Regions from separate parts of the Homo sapiens genome. Here all the other regions are linked to region 1. Evidence: fine-mapped expression QTL. A gene starts in region 1. Each other region holds a variant in brackets. All regions are shown on one strand. Distances are from middle to middle.

Region 1 (4,151 bases):
CTGAACTACAGTGACTTTTCTTCCTTTCCACCCCTCCACCCTTCCACAGAGCACAATTATACCTTCAGCTGTCTCTTCTTACCTGAAGGGGGCCGTTCTTATTTTTAAACTCTAAGAATCCTATCTTTCTTTACTATGGACCATCAAGAGGACACTGCACAGTAAGAGCAGTGCTACAGAAAGAGTCATGAATACCAGAGAGGTATAACTCCAGCCTAAGAAGTCTCTGGTCTGCAAAATCTGCATGGACAAATCCATTTCAAAGGGGACTTAAGTCTGTGCAGGAGCTGTATTTTAAGGGAACTGAATTGGGAACACAGATGTTTCTTCAGTTAGCAGAGTTGGCAGAACAGCTTCTGGACCAAATCCGAGTTCCTAATGCGGGAAGGGGCCTTGGAGAGCATCTACTTCAACCCACTCATTCAACTGCTGAGGAAACTGAGGCCCATGAGGCAGTTAAGTGGCACACCCAGCAAGTGGCAAGAGTGGCAGTGTTCTGATGACAAGTACTGTGCGTTTTCCATTACACCATGATTCGCTTTAAAAAAAAAAAAATCCTAGGCTGACTTCAACCTTGGAAGTCCTGTTCATTCTTGTGAAGCGCTTTCTCCCTCCCCTACCGAGTTCATAAATCCTCCTCGCCCTCCCACTCCAATTCCTTTAACTCCCACCGCTCTTCCAGCTGTGGCTTCCAACGACTTTGGAAAACAGAAGTGGACCATCGCCTCAACTTTCTGGGGGCGCAATTAAATTTGTGGTCCCCAAACAAGATCGCAGCTGGCTTTCCCAGTGCCTCAATGTGCCCATCAGGGAAATGGGGCTCATCACCCCTGCTGCACCGAGTCAGAGAGTGGGCGAGCTAAAACTGATGCCCCTGAAGCCGCCTACCACCTGGCACACAGTAGGCACTCAAGTGATTGCTGAAGCCGTGCCCAGCACCAAGCCCGGGGAAAGCACCTACAGGAGAGGAGCAAGTGAAAAGGCCGGCTAGCCAGTCTGGCGAGCCTGGGCAGCAAAGGCGGAAGGGCTGGATGTTTACATACAGCCGCCGGGAAGGCAGCTCGGCTCCAGGCAGGAGCCCGACTCTCGGGGCGATCCATTTCACTCGGATGGAGGGCGACCAGCTAGCTATACGCTGGCTCTAGAGCGCGGCTCAACCAACTTCCCCTACGCTAAAAGGACGAACCCACACCTTCCGCGGGATTCCGCCCGGGCTTCCAACGTGGAGACGACTTTTACTGAGCTGGTTTAACAGTTGCCCACGAACGCTTAAGCACGCCCAGACCCACTCAAGTACAGGCCAAGAAGTCGGTGGGATCGGGGAGGGCGGGGGCTTCGGGCCTGGGCGGCGCAAAGGCTCCCCAGGAAGGCTGCGGGGGCCCCCCGGAGCTGACGGCGCGGCGCGGCGCGGCGCTGCGCGGCCCCGGACTGGGCTGGGACGCGCGCCGAGGGACGAGGGGCCGAGGGGCCGAGGGACAGCGGGGCTGGGCTCACCCATGAAGAGGCAGAAGAGGTCGAGGCAGATGAGCAGCACCCGCTTGCTGCCGCTCCTCCTCGGGTTGTTGTTGAGCGCCGGGCTGCCGCCGTTCTTGCTCTCCGGGACGATCGCTTTGTCGTACTTGTAGTTTTGCATGGCGCTGGCTGCGGCGCGAGCCTCCCGCCCCGCGAAGACGTCCCGCAACAGCAGCCACACACCCAGGCGCCCGGGTCGCCTCCTGGCCGAGGCTGCTGCGGATAGTGGCGGGTCGGCCCCGGCTCCGGGCGCGGCGGCTAGAGTGCAGCCGGGGCTGCCTGCCTCCAACTGCAGAAGGTGGTGTTTTCTGCTCCTCCTGCGCGCCTCTGCTTTCCTCTGTCAACCCTAAATCGTTCTAAAGTCCAAGGGGAAGAGAGCCAGATCCCGAGCAGAAACTTTTGCAGAGCTGCGCAGCTTGGGGCGCGCTGTTGTGGCGCGCGTCTGAGTGCGCGAGCGAGCGAGTGGGCAGCGCGGGCGCTCGGCCACCTTCCTCCGCAGCTGGTTCCTTAATGAATGGGAGCTGCGCTGAGCCCAGCAACTCCGGAGCGCCAGCCCCAACTCTAACTTTGCCTCCTCCTCCTCCTCCTCCTCCGGCTCCTCCTGCTCCTCCTGCTGTTGGTGCTGCTGCCGCGGCGGCTGCTGCTGTGATCGCCTGGGTTTGTTTTCTGCACTTTTATTTCACGAGGTCCTTTAAAAAGAGAAGACGTGGGGGGAGAGAGAGAGAGGGACCTCCTTACTTGGCTCGGATGGGATTCCGAAAGCACAGCCCCTTCCTTAAGCTGCCTAAGACGTAGGATAATTAAGGCCACATTTTCCCCCACCCCCTTCAAAAAAAAAAAAAAAAGTCCTAAAAGGAAAAGTTACTCTCAAACCAGAGAAACCGGGAGCCCCTAGCGTTCAGAAACACCAAATTGTCACCAAAGAAAAAATATATATAAATAAAAAGAAACATTTTCTTGCTGGCCTTGGGTCAAGTAAAAGTTAGGGCTGTACAGCTAAAATGCATTTTTCCTCACCTACAAACCTGAGGCTTTCAGGTCTTTATTGTGACTTGAATTGTATTACCCTGAAAATATAATTTTTAAGGAAAACAAGTTGTTTGTTTGTTTAAGATCTTAACATCCAACACCGGGTACTACGCTAGATTTTGAGAATACTAAAATGAAAAAGACTGCACGACTGTGGAACCACATCTCCTGGATTTCAATCCTGTGACTCTGTGCCTCAGTTTCCCCGTATGTAACTAGAGATAACTGTTCCTTTTCATATAGGGTGGTTGTGAAGACTTAATTTGTTAATCCGTATAAGCTCCTAGAACAGTGCCCAGTACATAGGAAGTGCTCTGTGAGGGTTAGCAATTACCTTTTTTCTGGGTGAAGGAGTCTCAGGCAACCCCTCTCTTGGCCCCAAGAGTAATTCTACTACTATGGGGAATTCCAGGGCAGCCAAAATGCTCTCTGCTTGAGTTTCAGACAATCTAACATTTTTCCTTAGAGGCTGGCATCTTATTTTTAATTATTTTATGTGAGTTAATCTTTTTTCCAGATAGAGAATAAACATTTCCAGGGCAAGGGCCTTCCCTTGTATCTTCTATAGTGCCTAGCATGGACCTGGGCACAGTGGACAATAAATGGATGTTTTTTCCAGGTGGTTCTTTGTGTGCATTCAGAAATGGAAATATTTGTAGCTTTTTGATACATTATATGAATCATGTTCTTTCTTACACTGACTTGTTTTGGGTTTTGATAACTTTATATGCAGCCACCATCAACCCTTTCTGGTACAATTGCCCTTTCTGGTACAATCCTTTCACACTCCACACCCCTGCTCTCCTGCACGCTCTGCCTATAATGCATACCCTTTCCTCCTCTAGTTAGGGAAATGCTTCTCTTGCTTTAGTATCCTCTGAAATGTCACCTCCTCTCTGAGTACTTTCTTCATTCCTGCACAGAATTAACTTCACTGTCAACTCTTTGCTTCTAACTATTTTTTTTTCCCCCGAGATGGCGTCTCACTCTATCGCCCAGGCTGGAGTGCAGTGCCTCAATCTTGGCTCACTGCAATCTCCGCCTCCCGGATTCAAAGGATTCTCTTGCCTCAGCCTCCTGAGTAGCTGAGATTACAGGCTCGTGCCACCACACACGGCTATTTTTGTATTTTTAGTAGAGATGGGGCTTCACCATGTTGGTCAGGCTGGTCTCAAATTCCTGACGTCATGATCGCCTGCCTCGGCCTCCCAAAGTGCTAGGATTACAGGCATGAGCCTATGTCAGCCTGATTTGGTGTTACAGATGGTAAAGACTAGCAAACTGTGTAGGTTATCAGCGCCGCGGCATCTCTCTAGTACCTAGCACGGGATTTGCTGTGTACTGAATTAAGCTCAAGTTAGCACCGGTTAGTAAGTGGGGCTTGCAAAGAAAGACAACATTGCTATCTTCTGGAAGCAAGAAGATCTGACTCTCCCAAGAAGTTTTGGAGCTGAAGCATCCAACTGCAAATCACACACAGCACTCTCAATTCAAATAGCACAGGTAAAAGCCAGGGTAGTTCAGAAGGCAGATGCTTGAGATAGCTTTTTCTTGAGAAACACCTTCTCTTGAAAAGTTAAAAGAGTGGAAACAAAACAAGGCCAGGTTCA
Region 2 (4,151 bases), 160 kb before region 1:
ATTACAGGCGTGAGCCACCGCGCCCGGCCTATCTTTTTACTCCCATTACAGTTTTGCTGTTTCTAGAATGGCATACACTTGGAATTGTACACTATGCAGCCTTTTCAGACTCTTTCTTCATTTAGCAATACACATTTAAGATTCATTCATATCCTCTCACAGCTTGATAGCACCTTATGTTTTGAATCATGAAATAGTATTCCATTGTGTATATGTACCACCATTTGTCCACCAATTCACTTATTGAAGGACATTTTGTTTCGTTGTTTTGTTTTGTTTCAGTTTTTGGCAATTATTAAAATAAAGCTGCTATAAACAATAGTGTGCAAGTTTTTGTTTGAACATTCGTTTTCAAATCAGTTGGATAAATACCTAGGAGTATATTGCTAGATCATAGAGAAGGATTAGATTTAGCTTTGTAAGAAACTGCCACACTGTTTTCTCAAGTGGCTATACCATTTTGCATTCCCACAAGCAATGAATGAAAGTTCCTATTGCTCCACATCCTCATCAGCATTGAGTATTGTCAGTGTTTTGGATTTTGGCCATTCTAATAGGTGTGTAGTGATATCTTGTGGTTGTTTTAACTTGCAATTCCCTAACGACAAATTATGTTGATCAACTTTTCACATGATTGTTTCCCTTCTGTACATCTTATTTGGTGAGGTGTCTGATTGCACCTTTTGCTCACTTTTTAATTGGATTGTTTGTTTTCTTATTGTTGGGTTGATATGTCTTTTGTATATATTGGATATAAGTCCTTTCTCAGACATGTGTTTTGCAAATATTTTCTCCCATTCTATGGCTTGCCTTTTGACTGTCTCAATAGTGTCTTTCACAAAGCAGAATTTTTTAATGTTAATGAAATCCAAGTTACCAGCTTTTTCTCTCATGCCTTGTACCTTTGGTGTTGTAGCTAATGGCTTATCAGCAAACCTTGAATGATTTTAAATACATTATCTTATGGAATTATTATACCACTGCTCTTGGGCAGGGGATGTCATTTTCATTTCATAGAAGAAACAGCTTTCTGTCACATTTATCTCTGCAGGACCTTGAAACAGGGAAAAAGAGAGAATGGGTAAGCACCAAGAGAGAATATATAGGCAAAAGTAGGCCAAGGCAAACATTAAGAGGCTTCAAAGCTCCCTGTTCAGCCTTAAAATTCATGAGCATTTGACTATCTCTTCCACTAAATAGCTGTATTTGTTTGAATGTAAATATTATATTATTATTGCCAAGGTACACACACACACACACAACCACCACCACCACCACCAATGTTTTGATAAAACTGGTGCTTCATTAGCAAATGCCATGTTTATTGATTGAGTGACTTTATATCCTCCAGCAGTGACACACTTCTCTCAGGAATATTTTTACCTCAGTTTGGAAAGCAAACTAGACTGAAGGAAAGGGCAAGGTTGAGCACCTTGTCAAATGTCACACAGCTAGCAAGTGGCCGACCCAGGATTTGAGTCCTGAGTAAGTACAGTATATCTGCCAGCATACAGTGTCTGTGTCCTTGACCAGACACAGCCTGGCTCAGGGAGGCTGACACCATCTCCATTTCAAGGAGGCACACTTCTCCCTTCACCATTGACCTGGCCTTCCTCTGGCCTTCACAGCCCCTAGCGTCATACCATATCATTTAGGCTTCCCTCTCTCTTCAAAGCATGAATTAGGAAAGGGGGGAAAGCAACCCCAGGATCTGTCTGTCACGAATGTGGGAAAGAACCAGCCCTAGGGGGATGATAAAGACCTTGAAAAAAACAAACAAAAAAAAAAACGATTTTTCTTTATAATAAAAAACTTTTTATACTCAAACAATTTTTTGCTGAAATAACAATGCACATCACAAAACCTATTGAGGGAATGTATAATTATGCCAAATTAAACTGTAGAAGCGTCTCCCTGGCCATGAGAACCATTTATTTCTTGGTTCAGTTGTGTTCGATGGCTGGGGCTGGAGTAGCCACTGTTCTAAAAGAAGGAGCTTCTTGAGAGAAAGAGGTCATTCTCTCAGAGGAATGGCCTTTGCCCTCCAGAGCTGGGATCTGACTGGCTCCTCTAGAAAAAGTGGGAGCTGCAGGCATGTCTCTGTGAGCACCTGACCACAGAGCCTAGCACTGGGCCAAGCAGTCTCTTTGCCCCCACCCATCTCATCTGGATTGTATGCATTCAGCAAACATGCCCATGTATTGGGCATGAACCCCCCAACTCTACCCTCCTCCTAAGGGCTCAGTGGCCTTAGAAGTGTTCCGTTTGTCCCACATGCTGTCCTGGAGTCCAAGCCCTAAATTCAAGTCTCTTCTGCAATGATTAATTCTGTGATCTTGCTTGACATCTCTGCACCACTTTCCTCCCATCCATCTGTGAAACACGAGAGAGGGGCTTCCAGGTGGGCATGGAACAGGATGCTTTCACCTACATCATTTTAAGGAGATTGCTATTCTAGCAGAAAAAAATGACAAGGAAGTGACTATATCATCAAGACGAGTCTTTGAAGCTTACTGCAAAATCTTCATGTCCTTTGGCGGTGAATGTTTCCTCTCAAATGTATGT[A/G]AATTTGCTATGCTATGCACAATGTGCTAACTCAGTCAGTGTGGATGCCCTTTCCTTCCCTTTTTTTGCAACTGCTTCAGAGAACCCCACCCACTTTTGTATGCCTCACTGCCTGGGACAAGGCAGCTTTACCCTGTGCCCCATTTAAGCCCTGAATCTCAATGCATCTTCAGGGAAACCTTCAGAGTGACTGCTGCCATTCACTTTTCAAAGACCCCAAAATGGGGCTCCAAGCCTCAGTCCAATCAGCGTAACTAAGGGAAGGAGCTGGAACAACAAGGATTGTGGGAGATTAACCAGCTCTCCCACTGAGAGGCCAGGCAACCTATGTTACTAAATCCTTCTACCGGATTAAGCCAGAGCCCACAGATCACCCACAGGCTTGAACAGATGTGACACAACGGGGCACTTTCTGGGCCTTGGTCCAAGGAAAGAGCTAAAAGTAGATGGTGCATGGGCACAAGGCACTTGTCACTCTCTCCCTTGTAGAGGCAGTGGGCCGTCTCAGAAAGAACATGAGTCAAAAGACCTGGTTAGCCCAGCTTGGCCATGTGCCAGCTGTTTGACCTTGAGTGAGTCACTTCACTGCTCTGGGCCTCTGTTCCTTCAATGGAAAAATGGAGCTCATCATATGGATTTCACAGTCATGAAGGATTCTGAAATAATCAATCCAAATTTTATTTCTTCAAAGACCATCAAAATGAAACATGAATGGGATTGTCTCTGGCAGGATAAAGGCCTGGCTTTAAGGATGAAACATGTCTGTGGCTTCCCTAACTCCTCCCCTCCTTCCTCAGTGCTCCTCGGTGCCTTTCACATGCTTCCCCCATAACACTCTGCTTCAGGAGTTCCTCTCCTATAATTCGGCTTCTCGGAAACAGGGATTCTGCAACATTTATCTCTGCTTTCCCACACCTGGCCACACATGGGTTCCTAAATATGTATATCCAACTAAATGCACTTTGTAAATGATGCAACCCTCTGATGATTATCTACAGTCTAGGAGGGGAAATGGAACATATCCATAGATATTAACATATCTGTCAATATTAGCATATCAATGAGCATATCTATCAAAATATTCCATTTTCCCTCCTAGACTGTAGATACTTTGAGAGCAGGGGTCAGACCTACTTTATCCATGTATCTACCACAGCGCCAAACTAGACACACAGGTAATGTTCAGTCAGTATATGTGGAAAGCAAGGAGAAAGATGGGTATGTGAAAAGCAAGGAGAAAGATCTGAAGGGGAGAGAAAGAAATAGAAACTCCCCCTCCCCAACAGCAGCAGCTAACCCAGCCAGTTCACCTACCCACTCAGCCACTGGGCAGACCCATACTCTCACTCCTCTTCCTGAGACCAGAATTGAGATTGTTTTTAGTCTTCCTGGCCCAAAACTACAAAATCCACAAGGGCCAGCTATAATTTTTCTTTCCACCAAGATTTTCCTGTATGATGTCTAAAGACTCAACAGTCACCCAAAGGTTCTGATTGCAACGGATCGTCAGGGTTACAGATCCCCTGTAGAATTTCTCTACTAAGATGGGTGAGAAGAAATCATCTTCCATTTGTTTGCCCTAGACA
Region 3 (4,151 bases), 470 kb before region 1:
CTTTTACATATTCATTGGAGTTATTGGGTGACTATGTGTGTCAATGAACAGTAATATTTTTAAAGTATTTTTTTCTGAGCAGTAGGTCTCAATAATGGCATTAAAATATTCAGTAAACCATACTATAAACAGATGTGCTATTATCCACACTTTTTTGTTACATTTCTAGAGCACAGACAAAGTAAAGTTAGCATAATTTTGAAAGGCCATAGGATTTTCAAAATGGCAAATGAGCAATGGCTTTAATTTAAAGTTTCCATGTGCAGTAGCCTTTGACAAGAGGGTCAGCCTCTCCTTTGAAGCTTTGAAGCCAGGCATTGACTTTTTCTCTCTAGCTATGAAAGATGGTATCTTCATCCAATAAAGCTGTTTTAATCTACATTGAAAATCAATTGTTTAGTGTAGCCACCTTCATCAATAATCTTAGCTAGATCTTCTGGATAACTTGCTGCAGCTTCTACATCAGCACTTGATGCTTCACCTTGCCCTTTTATATATGAAGATGGCTTCGTTCTTAAACCTCATGATCCAACCTCTGCTAGCTTCCAACTTTTCTTTGCAGCTTCCTTACCTCTCTCAGACTTTACAAAATTAAAGAAAGTTAGGGCCTTGCTCTGGATTAGGCTTAGACTTAAAGGAATGTTGTGGCTGGTTTGATCTTCTATCTAGATCACTCAAATTTTCTCCATATCAGCAACAAGGTCATTTCACTTTCCTATCATTTGTGTGTTCACTGGAGGAGAACTTTTCATTTCCTTCAAGAACTTTTTCTTTGCATTCACAACTTGGCTAAACATTTGGCAGAAGGTGCCTAGTATTCAGCTTATCTTGGCCTTTAACATGGTTTCCTCACTAAACTTAATTATTTCTAGCTTTTGATTTAAAGTGAGAAACATTAGGCTCTTTTTTTCACTTGAACACTTAGAAGCCATTATAAGGTTATTAAATGGTCTAATTTCAACGTTTCCTCTTAGAGAATAGGGATACCTGAGGAAAGGAAAAGAGACAGAGGAACAGGTGGTTGGTGGAGCAGTCAGAACACACACATTTATTGATTAACATCACCGTCTTATATGGGTATGGTTTGTGGTGACCCACAACAATCCCAATAGTAACATCAAAGGATCACTGATCACAGGGAGATTGAGTGACTTCTGTCCTGGTGAGGTAACAACAGAAAGAATCCCCTCCACCAAGAAGGCTGCCCTTCCCAAATCCTCCTCAAATTGGCCTGCGTGGTAGTCTCCCAAGATATTTCTTTTCCTCCTTAGTGATATACAACTTTTGTTCATTTTGGTCATAGGAGAAATTCCAAGAAATAAGAGAGGTAAGTTGAAGTGACTGACAAAGGATGGAATGCCACAGCTGTTGAGGTTGAGAGGTAGGCTCAGCAGTCCACCCTTGTGTGATCTTGAGCAAGCTCAGTGACCTCAGAGCCTATGTTTCTCACTGGTTAAATGAATATAACACAGGTGGCTGGGGAAAATTGTGGACAGGTGACAGGACTAACGTGCAGCTCCCACTTGGATGGACAGAACAGTGTGTGGAGACTCACACTGTGAAGTTTTGCTCCAAGAACCACTGCAGGGACATACCAGGAAAACCAAAAGAATTCACAGACCCTTTGAAAGAAGCAGTTTGCCACTATGAACTCCCGAGACAGCTGAAAA[C/A]CTGTGAGTTCCCAAAGTGTGAGGGGGGGAAAAGTCCACTTTGAATTCTTATCCCCATTGAGGAAAATGGAAATCCAGATCATAGGAGAAGAATTTAACCTTACCTAAAGCTGAAATGGATATAGGGAGCCAAGTGAAATATAAAAGCAGAAGCAGCAGAAGGAAGAGCCCTGTAGGCACTCCTGGTCATCAGCTCGAGCCCAGGAAAGCCATCCCTGGCTTTATTACCTCAAAGGGGTCCTTGGAGAAAGCAGCCAGTGAAATTGGGCAGGGGCCACAAGGTGAAGGAAGCTTCTAGTTTATTACAATTAAATTTTGTAATAACTTTGACTGAGCATGAATTTTCCTGAGTAGAATCTGGGTTTGAGGGGGGCAGACAGGAAGTGCAGATACAAGCACAGAAGTGACAGTTGATGGTGAGGGCAGGTGGGGAAAGGAGAGGACTGAGAGCCCTGCTTGCTTTCTCAGAAGGGAGGCTTGTAGCCTTGGGCAAAATATCAGCCCTGCTCACAGGCTGCCTGGATATAAACTTGGTGCTGTTAGTGGGGCACAGTGAGAGTGAGACTGGCCTTGCTGGCTGCGTGGGAACTAAGTGAGGCCTGTCACTGCCGGCTTTTCCCCACTTCCCTGGTGACCTGTATGACATAGCAGAGGCAGCCATAATCCCCCTGGGAACATAACTCCATTGGCCTGAGAACCAACACCCATCCCCCACAGTGGCCACATCAAGCCCTGCTCAAGGAAAGTCTGAGCTCAGACCTGCTTAACCCTGTCCCCAACTGATGGTTTTTCTCTACCTGCCCTGGTAGGCAAAGCAAAAGACATGAACACTTGGGAACTCTATGGCCCTGCCAATTGCCTGAGAAACCCAAGTACTTATCCTGGCCAATGTAGGACAAGCTTATATCCCCCTTCTATTACCACAGTTGGTGCTCTCTTCAAAGTGCCACCTCCTGGCTGGAGGCCAACTAACTCAAGCCATTACAGCAACTCAAAACAGAACAACTCTGCTACAAATAAGGAAAAAACAACAGTTAATTCTACTGCCTGCAACACCATGGCTAATCAGAGGTCCTGAGTCTATCTGTGTGACAACTTCACTGCTAGCATAACCAGCATTCAAGAAAACCAGTGCACTAAACAAAACTACAACCAAGGACTCCCACAGAGTCCACTTCACTCCCCTGCCACCTGCACTAGAGCAGGTGGGGGTATTCATGGCTGGGAGACCTGAAGACAGATCACATCAGAGGACTCTTTGCAGACATTCTCCAGCATCAGCCAGGAGCCCAGGAGCCCCAGTGGGTAGCTAGACTCAGAAAGATAAAAACAATTGCTACACTCTGGCTCTCAGGAAACCTGGTCATGAAGGGAAGGAGGAGAGCACCACATCAAGGGATCACCCCATGGGACAAAAGAATCTGAATGGCAGTCCTTGAGTTTTAGATCTTTCCACTAAAACTGTCTACCCAAATGAGAAAAAATCAGAAAAGTAATTCTGGTAATATGAGAAAACAAGGTTCTATAAAACCCTCAAAAATCACACTAGCTCTCCATCAGTGGATCCCAACCAAGAAGAAATCTCTGAATTGCCAGATAAAGATTCATAAGGTTGATTATTAAGCTACTCAAAGAGGTACCAGAGAAAGGTGAAAACCAACTTAAAGAAATAAAAAAAATACATGATATGGATGAAAATGTCTCCAGAGAAATAGATATCACAATGAAAAGACAATTGCAACTTCTGGAAATGATAAATTCACTTAGATAAATGCAAAATACACTGGAAAGTTTCAACAATAGAATTGAACAAGTAGAAGAAAGAACATCAGAGCTCAAAGACAAGGCTTTTGAAGTAACCAAATCTGCCAGAGACAAAGAAAAAAGAATTTTCAAGAAATGAACAAGGCTCCAATAAATTAGAGATTATGGTAAATGACCAAGCATAAGAATAATTGGTGTTCCTCAGGAAGAAGAGAACTCTAAAGTTTGGAAAACTTATTTGAGGGAATAATTGAGGAAAATTCCTTGCTCTTGTTAGAGATCTAGACATCCAAATACAAGAAGCTCAAAGAACATCTGGGAAATTCATCACAAAGAGATCATTGCCTAGGCACATACTCATCAGGTTATTTAAACTCAAGACGAAGGAAAGAATCTTAAGAGCTGGGAGGCAAAAAGGAAAACCTATCAGAGTAAGAGCAAATGTCCCAACAGATACCCTACAAGATAGAAGGGATTGGAGTCCTATTTTTAGCCTCTTTGACAAGATAATTATCAGTCAAGAATTTTGTATCCAGTGAAACTAAGCTTCATAAATGAAGGAGAGACGAAGTCTTTTTCAGACAAGCAAATGCTGAGAGAATTTACCACTACCAAGCAAACACTACAAGTAATGCTAAAAGAAATTTGTTTCTAAATCTTGAAACAAAACCTCAAAATATACAAAAATAGAGCCTCCTGAAAGCATAAATCTCACAG
Region 4 (4,151 bases), 110 kb before region 1:
ATGACCTACTTCAGGGCCACATGCTTTCTTACCTGAGCTCTTACATTAGTCACCTAATTAATCTCCCTCTTCTCACCCAGACCCCTTCTGCCACCATGAGGATTCTGACTCTCCCTCTGCTTAAAGGCAAATCAGGTGCACCCCATACCTATCAGATAAAGCCCAAATTCTTCAGCCTGGCATGCCATGCCTTTTGTGACTTTTCCCTGCCCGCTTGTCATCATTCATCTTTCAGCCATTCCTGCTCTGCCTTCATCCTCCACAAAAATACACTATTATTATTTATGGTTCCACAAATATATTATGTTCTCTCAAGTCTCCCTACCTTTGCTGGGGTTATTTTCCCTGCCAGAATTGCTTCCCCCATCCTCAAATCCATCCGATTTGTATCACTCTGCTTGGGTTGCCAAAACAAAATACACAAACTGGGTAGCTTAAACAACAGAAATTGATTCCTTCACAGTTCTGGAGGCTAGAAGTTCATGATCATGGTGTCAGCAAATTCAATTCCTGCTAAGGGCTCTCTTCCTGGCTTGCAGACAGCCACCTCCTCCCTATGTCCTCACAGGGACTTCCTTCTTTGTGCAAGTGTCTTTGGTGCCTCTTCCTTTTATTTTAAGAGCACTATTAAATTAGGGTTATAATTAAAGTTAAATGTGACCTCATTTAACCTTAACTATCTCTCTAACAGCCTTATCTCCAAATGCAGTCCCATTAAGAGTTAGGGTTTCAGCATATGAAGTGGGGCAAGGGAATGATTAAGCCTGTAACACTTCTATTATAGCTTTTATTTTTATGTATTCAGTTTATTTGTTTTCAGCTGGGCTCAGTGGCTCACGCTTGTAATCCCAGCAGTTTGGGAGGCCGAGGCAGGCGGATCACCTGAGATCAGGAGTTGGAGACCAGCCTGGCCAGCATGACGAAACCACGTCTCTACTAAAAATACAAAAATTAGCCAGGCACAGTGGTGGGCACCTGTAATCCCAGCTGCTTGGGAAGCTGAGGCACAAGAATCACTTGAACCTGGGAAGTGGAGGCTGCAGTGAGCCGAGATCGTGCCATTGCACTCCAGCCTGGGTGACAAAGCAAGACTCCATCTCACAAAAAAAAAAAAAAAGAAAGAAAAAAGATTATTTGTTTTCACATCTGTCTCTTCCACTGGCTTCTGAGGGAACCTGGAACGCCTTTGAATCTGTAGCTCAGTGAGGGTCCATCTAGATTTTGTGAGACCCATCCTCCCTACCCCAGGCTTACAAAATGCGGTAGGCCCTCATTGGGAAAAAGATTAAAAATTAGGTATAAGGTGAATTTAGAAAGGTCCCATGCAAGTGAAGCGCCCTGGAGTTCAAGCCTCGGAGCTTCATACTTTATCTGTCTCTGGGCTCAGTAAAGATGTGTCACAATAAAAAGCTTCAACAGCCTCAATATGTACTAGAAAGACTGGATTTAAATCCAATCTCTCATCTCCCTTTGGGCAGGTGAGTTCATTATCTGCACATTGGTATTTCTGCATATGTAAAAATGAATTTATAATACCTGCCGTGTTAAGGTTGTTTTGCACTGAAGATGTATTTAGGTAACCTGAAAATATACCAAATATTTGTTTACTTGCTTATTGTCTGTGTTCCCCACCACAGTCTAAACCCCATGAAGAAAGAGACTTTGCCTTCGTCATTGCTGAA[C/T]GCCTCTTGTCTAGAATAATGTCTAGAAATTGTTGGGTGTTCAATGAATGTTTATTGATTGAAACAATATAGTACCTCCTCATATCTGAAACAATGGTGCCTGGTATCCATTGATAGGTTAAGTTCTCCCAATTTTAACTCTTACTATTATTAATAAATTTTAGTTAAATGAGTAATAAGGAGAAAGAAAATACAAATATCAGAAGAGATAAAAACCACTCATAGACTCTGGAGAGCAAAGTAAATCAAATTTCATATGATCCGAAATGTTTTCAGACCTAGAATTTTTTTTAAAAATCTTTAAAAAAAAAAGATCGGAGGCTGAGGCAGGCAGATCACGAGGTCAGGAGATCGAGGCCACCTTGGCTAACATGGTGAAACCCCGTCTCTACTAAAAATACAAAAAATTAGCCGGGCGTGGTGGCGGGCGCCTGTTGTCCCAGCTACTCAGGAGGGTGAGGCAGGAGAATGGCATGAACCCAGGGGGTGGAGCTTGCAGTGAGCTGAGATCGCGCCACTGCACTCCAGCCTGGGCGACAGAGAGAGACTCCATCTCAAAAAAAAAAAAAAAGAAAGAAAGAAAAGCAAACAAAGGAACAATGCACACGTATCCACACAAGGAACACCGAAAATCCTTCAGGCAGTAAGTTGAGTAAAAGATAGGAAAGCCCCAGAAATTTGACATGGCTTCACTGGTGACCAAGACAGCATATTTATTCATTGTTCAGCAGCTCCCTTCTTATTCTCCAAGGAGTGGAAAGCGTTGCTGAGTTCTGGACGAAAGCCTCTCCCGTCAGCTGTTTAAGAGCATTGCTGTCATTAGACAACCTCAAATCATGTCAAGCCCCAGTCTCTGCCAGCACCGAGCTGAAAAGCCAATCCTCCAACTTAGCTCTGAACTCTTCACCCCAATCAATTAAGAGCGATCCCATCAAAAACCCCAAATAAGTTTGCTTGGCCTGACCTTGACGATTCTAGTTAAAGAGACATCGCTCCTCCTGGAAGAATCTATCATTTTTAAATGGCTCACATGATGGCTGAGGAATTCAGGGAGAGTTAGACTGAATCCCAGCACCCGAGAGCTGAGAGAGACCTCGGCACTCAGAGTCCATTTTTCACTACAGAAGAGGAAACTGAGGCTCAGAGACAGCGACTACCTTTCTTGAGGTCATATAACTTGGCGATTATTGTTGTGAAAATGTATTCCTTACACCAGTCAGAATGGCTATGATTAAAAAGTCAAAAAACAACAGATGTTGGTGTGGATGTGGAAAAAAGGGAATGTTTATACACTGTTGGTGGGGAAGAAATTAGTAAACTAGTACAACATCTAGGAAAAACAGTATGGAGATTTCTCAAAGAACTAAAAATAAAATTATCATTTGACCCAACAACCCCACTACTGGGTATCTACCCAGTACTTGTACCTGTATTTGTATGTCTATTGCAGCACTATTCTCAACAGCAAAGTCATGGAATCAACCTAAGTGTCCATCAGCAGCTGAACTGATAAAGAAAATATGGCTGGGTGCGGTGGCTCACACCTATAATCCCAGCACTTTGAGAGGTTGATGTGGGTGGATCACTTGAGGCCAGGAGTTTGAGACCAGCCTGGCCAACATGGTGAAATCCCATCTCTACTAAAAATACAAAAATTAACCAGGCCTGGTAGTGCACACCTGTAATCCCAGCTAGTCGGGAGGCTGAGGCAGGAGAATCACTTGAACTCAGGTGGTGGAGGGCTGCAGTGAGCTAGCTGAGTTCACACCACTGCACTCTACCCTGGGTGACAGAGCAAGGCTCTGTCTCAAAAATAGATGTATATGGTACATATACGCCATGGAATACTACACCACCAATTAAAAAGAATGAAATCATGTCTTTTGCAGCAACATGGATGGAGCTAGAGGCAATTATCTTAAAAGAAATAACTCAGAAACAGAAAACCAAATACTGCATGTTCTCACTTACAAGTGGGAGCTAAAGAATCAGTACACATGAACATCTAGAGAGTAATAACAGAACTAAGGGCTCCAAAAGGGGGAAGCGTCAGAGGAAGAGAGGGTTGAAAAATTACCTGTTGGGTACAATGTTCACTGTTTGGGTGACAGGCACCCTAAAAGTCCAAACCCTACCACTACACAATATATCCATATAACAAACCTGCACATGTACCCCTGAATCTATAAAATAAAACTTTTTTTTTAAAAAAGGATTATTTAGCTTTCTATTCAGTTCATTAATCATCACACTTGACCGTGCCAGTGACTGACTCATGATTCAAGAAGAGCTTGCTTCCACTTCCCAGAACTTGTTCCAGTTTCTCATTCTGCTTCCTATGCACTGTGTGAACTTGGACAAGTGACTTCACCTCCTGAACCTCAATTTTCATCCTTCAAAAGATGCGATAATAACATTTATTTCACACGTGTGTTATCAAGAGGAAATGAAAAAGCATTTAATTAAAAC
Region 5 (4,000 bases), 49 kb before region 1:
CAGCAAGCAACAGATTCTGGGGGTGATGGCAGGCTGCCAGGCAAGCAGAGAATTCTCCCCTACCTGCCTTTTAAAGCACTTGGCACAGAATCTGGAAACTAATAAAATGGGAAAGCATTGCAATTAAGCTACAAGGGGACAGAAAGGGATCAGTCCTTGCCTGAGAAGGGCTGCAGTTTGGAGAGAGGTTGGCTCCAACTGCAAGACAGCTCCTCTTCCTGTCTTTTCTGGTGAAAAAGAGCTCAACTGCCCACATATTTACAAATATTTAACTGTTATGGAGAGGAAATATGAAGAAAAATTAGGATAGATTTTTGGGAAAAGATAGAGCAAGAGGTGGTGAAAGAAGCAACAACGTTGTAGCCAGAAAAACCTGTCTGAATCTTGTCTATTACCTTAGGCATGTGACTTTACCTCTCTGGGCTTAGATGTCCTCATCTATAAAATAAGGTTAATAATATCTATGTGGCAGGATTGCCAGGGAATTAGATAAGGTGATATGTCAATCGCCTGGCACCTAGCAGGAGAGCCCTCCAAAAGTTAACTTTTTTCTTCCCTCCATTGAAGAGGAAAGCAAACAAACAAATAAAAAACATGTTTTGTAGAGAGTATCTCTTCCAAGAGCTCCTTGGACGATACCATACCTAAATGAAGAGTTTGGAAATACCACCCCTCCAGGGTAGGACCAGAAAATGTATGTATGGATGACATTGCTTTTGATCATTTTATCTAGTATGTATTTTTCAGCAGATCAAGACAGAAGCAAAGTCTAAACCCAAAGCAGAAGGGACAACCCTACTCTACTGTTTTGTGTTATTTTTAACATTCCACTCTATTTGTAAATTATCCCAAGAAAAGTAATATTTTTGCACAGCAGCCTAACAATCTCTTTCAGAGACTGAGAACTCATCTTCCACCGCTGAGTCTGAAGGACAAACTTTCCTATACTCTGATCTGCTTTAATAATATTGGCTTAGTACTTTACAGCTTTCAAAGCACTTTCACATCCACTATACTGTTTGCTTCTCACAACACCATATGAATTACTAAATTATTACCAACACTTATATAAATGAGTATGATGAAGGCCAGAGAGGGCAGTGAATCACTCTGATAAAAATGAGACAGCAAGAAGACCATCACTGAAGCTGGGGCTTCCTCCTTCTAATTCCTGTGCTGTTCCCAATGGCATCGAGCTGGCTTTCTCTTAGAAGTCCTACTAGGCAGTAGTATGTATGTCTCCAGAGAGACATATGTTCACAGAACACCCAGTAAGGGCCTGCCATCTTGAAAGGCACCTGCACCTCTAAGTTCCTGCTAGCCACAGAGGGTCAAGTTGTTCTTTTACATCTCGGTTACATGAATTGATGAACTTCTTTTGCCCAGAAAAGATTAATTCAACAAACTGTTGATGATGGAGAATCGTGAAGGGAGAATCACATTTCTCACTTTAGTTCTCAGTCCCAAAGGAAAGGAAAAATATAATGTACTGGGTCCTGTTTCTAAGGATGGAGACAGATGTATGGCTGTATTTTCTCTGGCACTGACTGCTCCATCTACTGCAATAAAGTGCAGCGTCTTTAGTAACTAGAAATAGTTGATTGGAAATTTATTCTCTGATTCTTCTGTCACTTGGTTATCATCTTCAGCCTTTTTCAGAAGATCAGTGCCTCACTGTCTGGGAAAGGTAATGAAGACATAGATCTGTCCAAAGACACCAGTATAATTTCTGGGCTTTATGGGTAAGTCAGAACTCCAATATCTAGAATAAAGACAGCAAAGAGGCCAGAGAGGGGCTACAGAAGTTATTTATGGTTGAAATTAGCAGTGGCTGCCCTGTGCCCACAAGTCTCATGAAGAAGAGAGTCTGAGGCATAAAGCATCATTGTTTTCCCAAAAGTCAGGGACTCAGAGTCATGGGCCTCCTGAATGCCCAACTCTGCCAGTCCATGCAAGAATCTCCTGGCTGTTCTTTCTGCAGCATTGCCTACTGCAACCTCTTACTCTTTTTTTTTTTTTTTACCTTGAATTTCCTAGGCTTCCTTAATATCACACCACCATGCTTTTGTTACTATTTCTAAATGTATGTCTGCTTCTTCTAGTGGTTCCACATCTGACTTCTACCCAATAAATGTGGGTCTTCCCTAGGATTGTGTTCCTGGCTTTCTGCTGTGATCTCAGCTGCTTCAATAGCTTCAATTGTTACCTCTGTGAAGATGACCTTCAAAAGGGCATCTCTCTGTCTCTCTCTAGCTTCAGCCTACCCCTTTCCCCTAATTGGCCCAATTCCAATCTTCTGCTAACTCTCCCACCTGGAGATGTTAGTACCATTTCAAATTAACCAAGTCTAAGGTCACACCCATTCCCACTCCTGTCCCAAACTTCACTTCTCTTCCCTCTAGTTCTGCTCAAGA[T/C]GCCACCAAGCATATGACTGACAAAGATGTGCAATCTTAGACTCCTTCCTCTCCCTTATCCCATTGTCCATCCGGCTTTTGCAAGGTCTTTTGCATCCATCTTTTTCTATTTCCCTTGCATTGCCACCACTGTGGTTCAGGCCTCATCTTTACCTTAATTAGAAAATTGACCAAGCTCACTTAAAATACTCTCATCAACCTCTAGCCAATTAGCTGGAGTAAAAATTCCTCAGCATTCAAGGGTCTTCACGATCTTGCCACAATCTTCTTTTCCTGCTGTAACCTTGTCTACTCCCTTATATTCCATTCATTCAGCCAAACAGGTCTGCTCTACATTCCCTGAAAACACTTCATTGTTTTGAAGTCTCTAAAATGGCTGAAGCCACTCCTTCTGCCTAGGTCAGGTTCTCTGACGAAAATCCTACTTATGCCTTAAAGTAGAGCTCAAGTGCCAACTAGTGTTCTGGGTTAGAGTTTGGCTCTTTGACTTATGAGTCTTGTACAACTGAGCTCTCTAAGTCTCAGTTTCCTTATCTCTAAAAATGAAGATGATGACAGTATCAAAAGCAGGGTTGTGGTGAAAATTATATGAGACGAGTGCTCAGTGAATAATGATGATGATGAAGCCTTGGCATAAGCCTTAGCCTTAAGTGCTCTTCCTCTGAACTCCCATAGCACTTTATTTAGACCTCAGACAATCTGCAGCATCTGATATGTTTCGTCCTTGAAGCTCTCCCCTCCCTAGCAGCCACCACCATGCACTGCCCTGACTCTCCTCTTATTCTCAGACTAATTATTTCCTTTCCTTGAGGGTCTAATCCTATAGTCAGACTTGTACTTGTCTTGAATTCCCTTTAAACCATAAGATCCAAAGGCAAGATCTGTATTTTACACATCAGCTTATAGGCCAAGGTGCCTACCACAAAGCCTGCTTGCTATAAGGGAGGTATCACCCGGCACCTACCTACACACAGCAGGTGATCACCATCTCTACAAACCATTGATGCACACTGTCAATCTTGGGCAGTCATCTGCCCAGTGGTCTAGATGTTTTATCTTCCTCCATACATTTAACTCTCCAAGCCCAGTAACTAAAAGCTTTTATAGCTAACTAAATAAAGAGCACTCTACATAGCACCGACCAGAGTGGGCCTTCATTAGCATCTGTTAAAGCACTTAGGCTTGAAAGCCAAACAGATCTAGGTTTTAATTCGTGTTCCCCCATTCACTAAGCAGAGTAACCTCGGGCTAGTCACTTCAACCTTATAAGCCTCAGTGTCCTCCCTCATTTGTCAAATGTGGTAAATAATAGCAACCTCACATAGCTGTTGAAGAGGATTTAAGATAAGACATGAGTTTCTGGTCCATTAAATAGCTCATAAATGTTATCTGACTCTCCACCCCATCCCCAACACACACTGCCCCTCACAGAAAGTATTTCTCGGCCTCCTAAGCATTATGACTTCAAATGGAGCATATCATCACCTCCGTATTGATACGTTTTTCAAATAGTCATGAATCCCTAAGAGCTGTACCTAACTAAGGAAGAATTGCTGCTGTTCTCACTTCTTCCAGGACATGAGAGT

Alleles and levels. Alleles are on the strand shown, and positions count from the first base shown. SD is a standard deviation of normalised expression in the study named. Not every link is listed here.
For the expression in prefrontal cortex of the gene that starts at base 2,180 in region 1, allele C in region 5 goes with a higher level than allele T (small effect, 0.35 SD a copy in ROSMAP).

The links. PIP is the estimated chance that this variant, and not a neighbour inherited with it, causes the effect.
Region 2: its variant is the best candidate, but not a certain one, in a credible set for the expression of PLPP3 in whole blood (TOPMed, PIP 0.79).
Region 3: its variant is the best candidate, but not a certain one, in a credible set for the expression of PLPP3 in lung (TOPMed, PIP 0.55).
Region 4: its variant is the best candidate, but not a certain one, in a credible set for the expression of PLPP3 in whole blood (INTERVAL, PIP 0.56).
Region 5: its variant is the best candidate, but not a certain one, in a credible set for the expression of PLPP3 in prefrontal cortex (ROSMAP, PIP 0.83).

Annotation. Positions count from the first base shown.
Region 1 is chr1:56,577,384-56,581,534 of GRCh38, forward strand. It overlaps PLPP3 (phospholipid phosphatase 3), which reads right to left and starts at 2,180. Exons shown (of 6, transcript NM_003713.5): 1 at 1,495-2,180. The coding sequence starts at 1,633. RefSeq lists an enhancer at 1-165.
Region 2 is chr1:56,422,319-56,426,469 of GRCh38, forward strand. The region is part of intron 1 of LOC124904185 (a long non-coding RNA gene); the gene reads right to left. Among named protein-coding and RNA genes, the nearest start is that of LINC01767, 9.4 kb to the left of the region's middle. The variant A/G (reference allele first, on the strand shown) is at 2,566.
Region 3 is chr1:56,104,496-56,108,646 of GRCh38, forward strand. All of the region lies in intron 1 of LOC105378741 (a long non-coding RNA gene), which reads right to left. Among named protein-coding and RNA genes, the nearest start is that of LINC01755, 160 kb to the left of the region's middle. The variant C/A (reference allele first, on the strand shown) is at 1,671.
Region 4 is chr1:56,466,190-56,470,340 of GRCh38, forward strand. The region is part of intron 1 of LOC124904185 (a long non-coding RNA gene); the gene reads right to left. Among named protein-coding and RNA genes, the nearest start is that of LINC01767, 53 kb to the left of the region's middle. The variant C/T (reference allele first, on the strand shown) is at 1,683.
Region 5 is chr1:56,528,105-56,532,104 of GRCh38, forward strand. The region is part of intron 2 of PLPP3 (phospholipid phosphatase 3); the gene reads right to left. Among named protein-coding and RNA genes, the nearest start is that of PLPP3, 49 kb to the right of the region's middle. RefSeq lists an enhancer at 3,219-3,954. The variant T/C (reference allele first, on the strand shown) is at 2,415.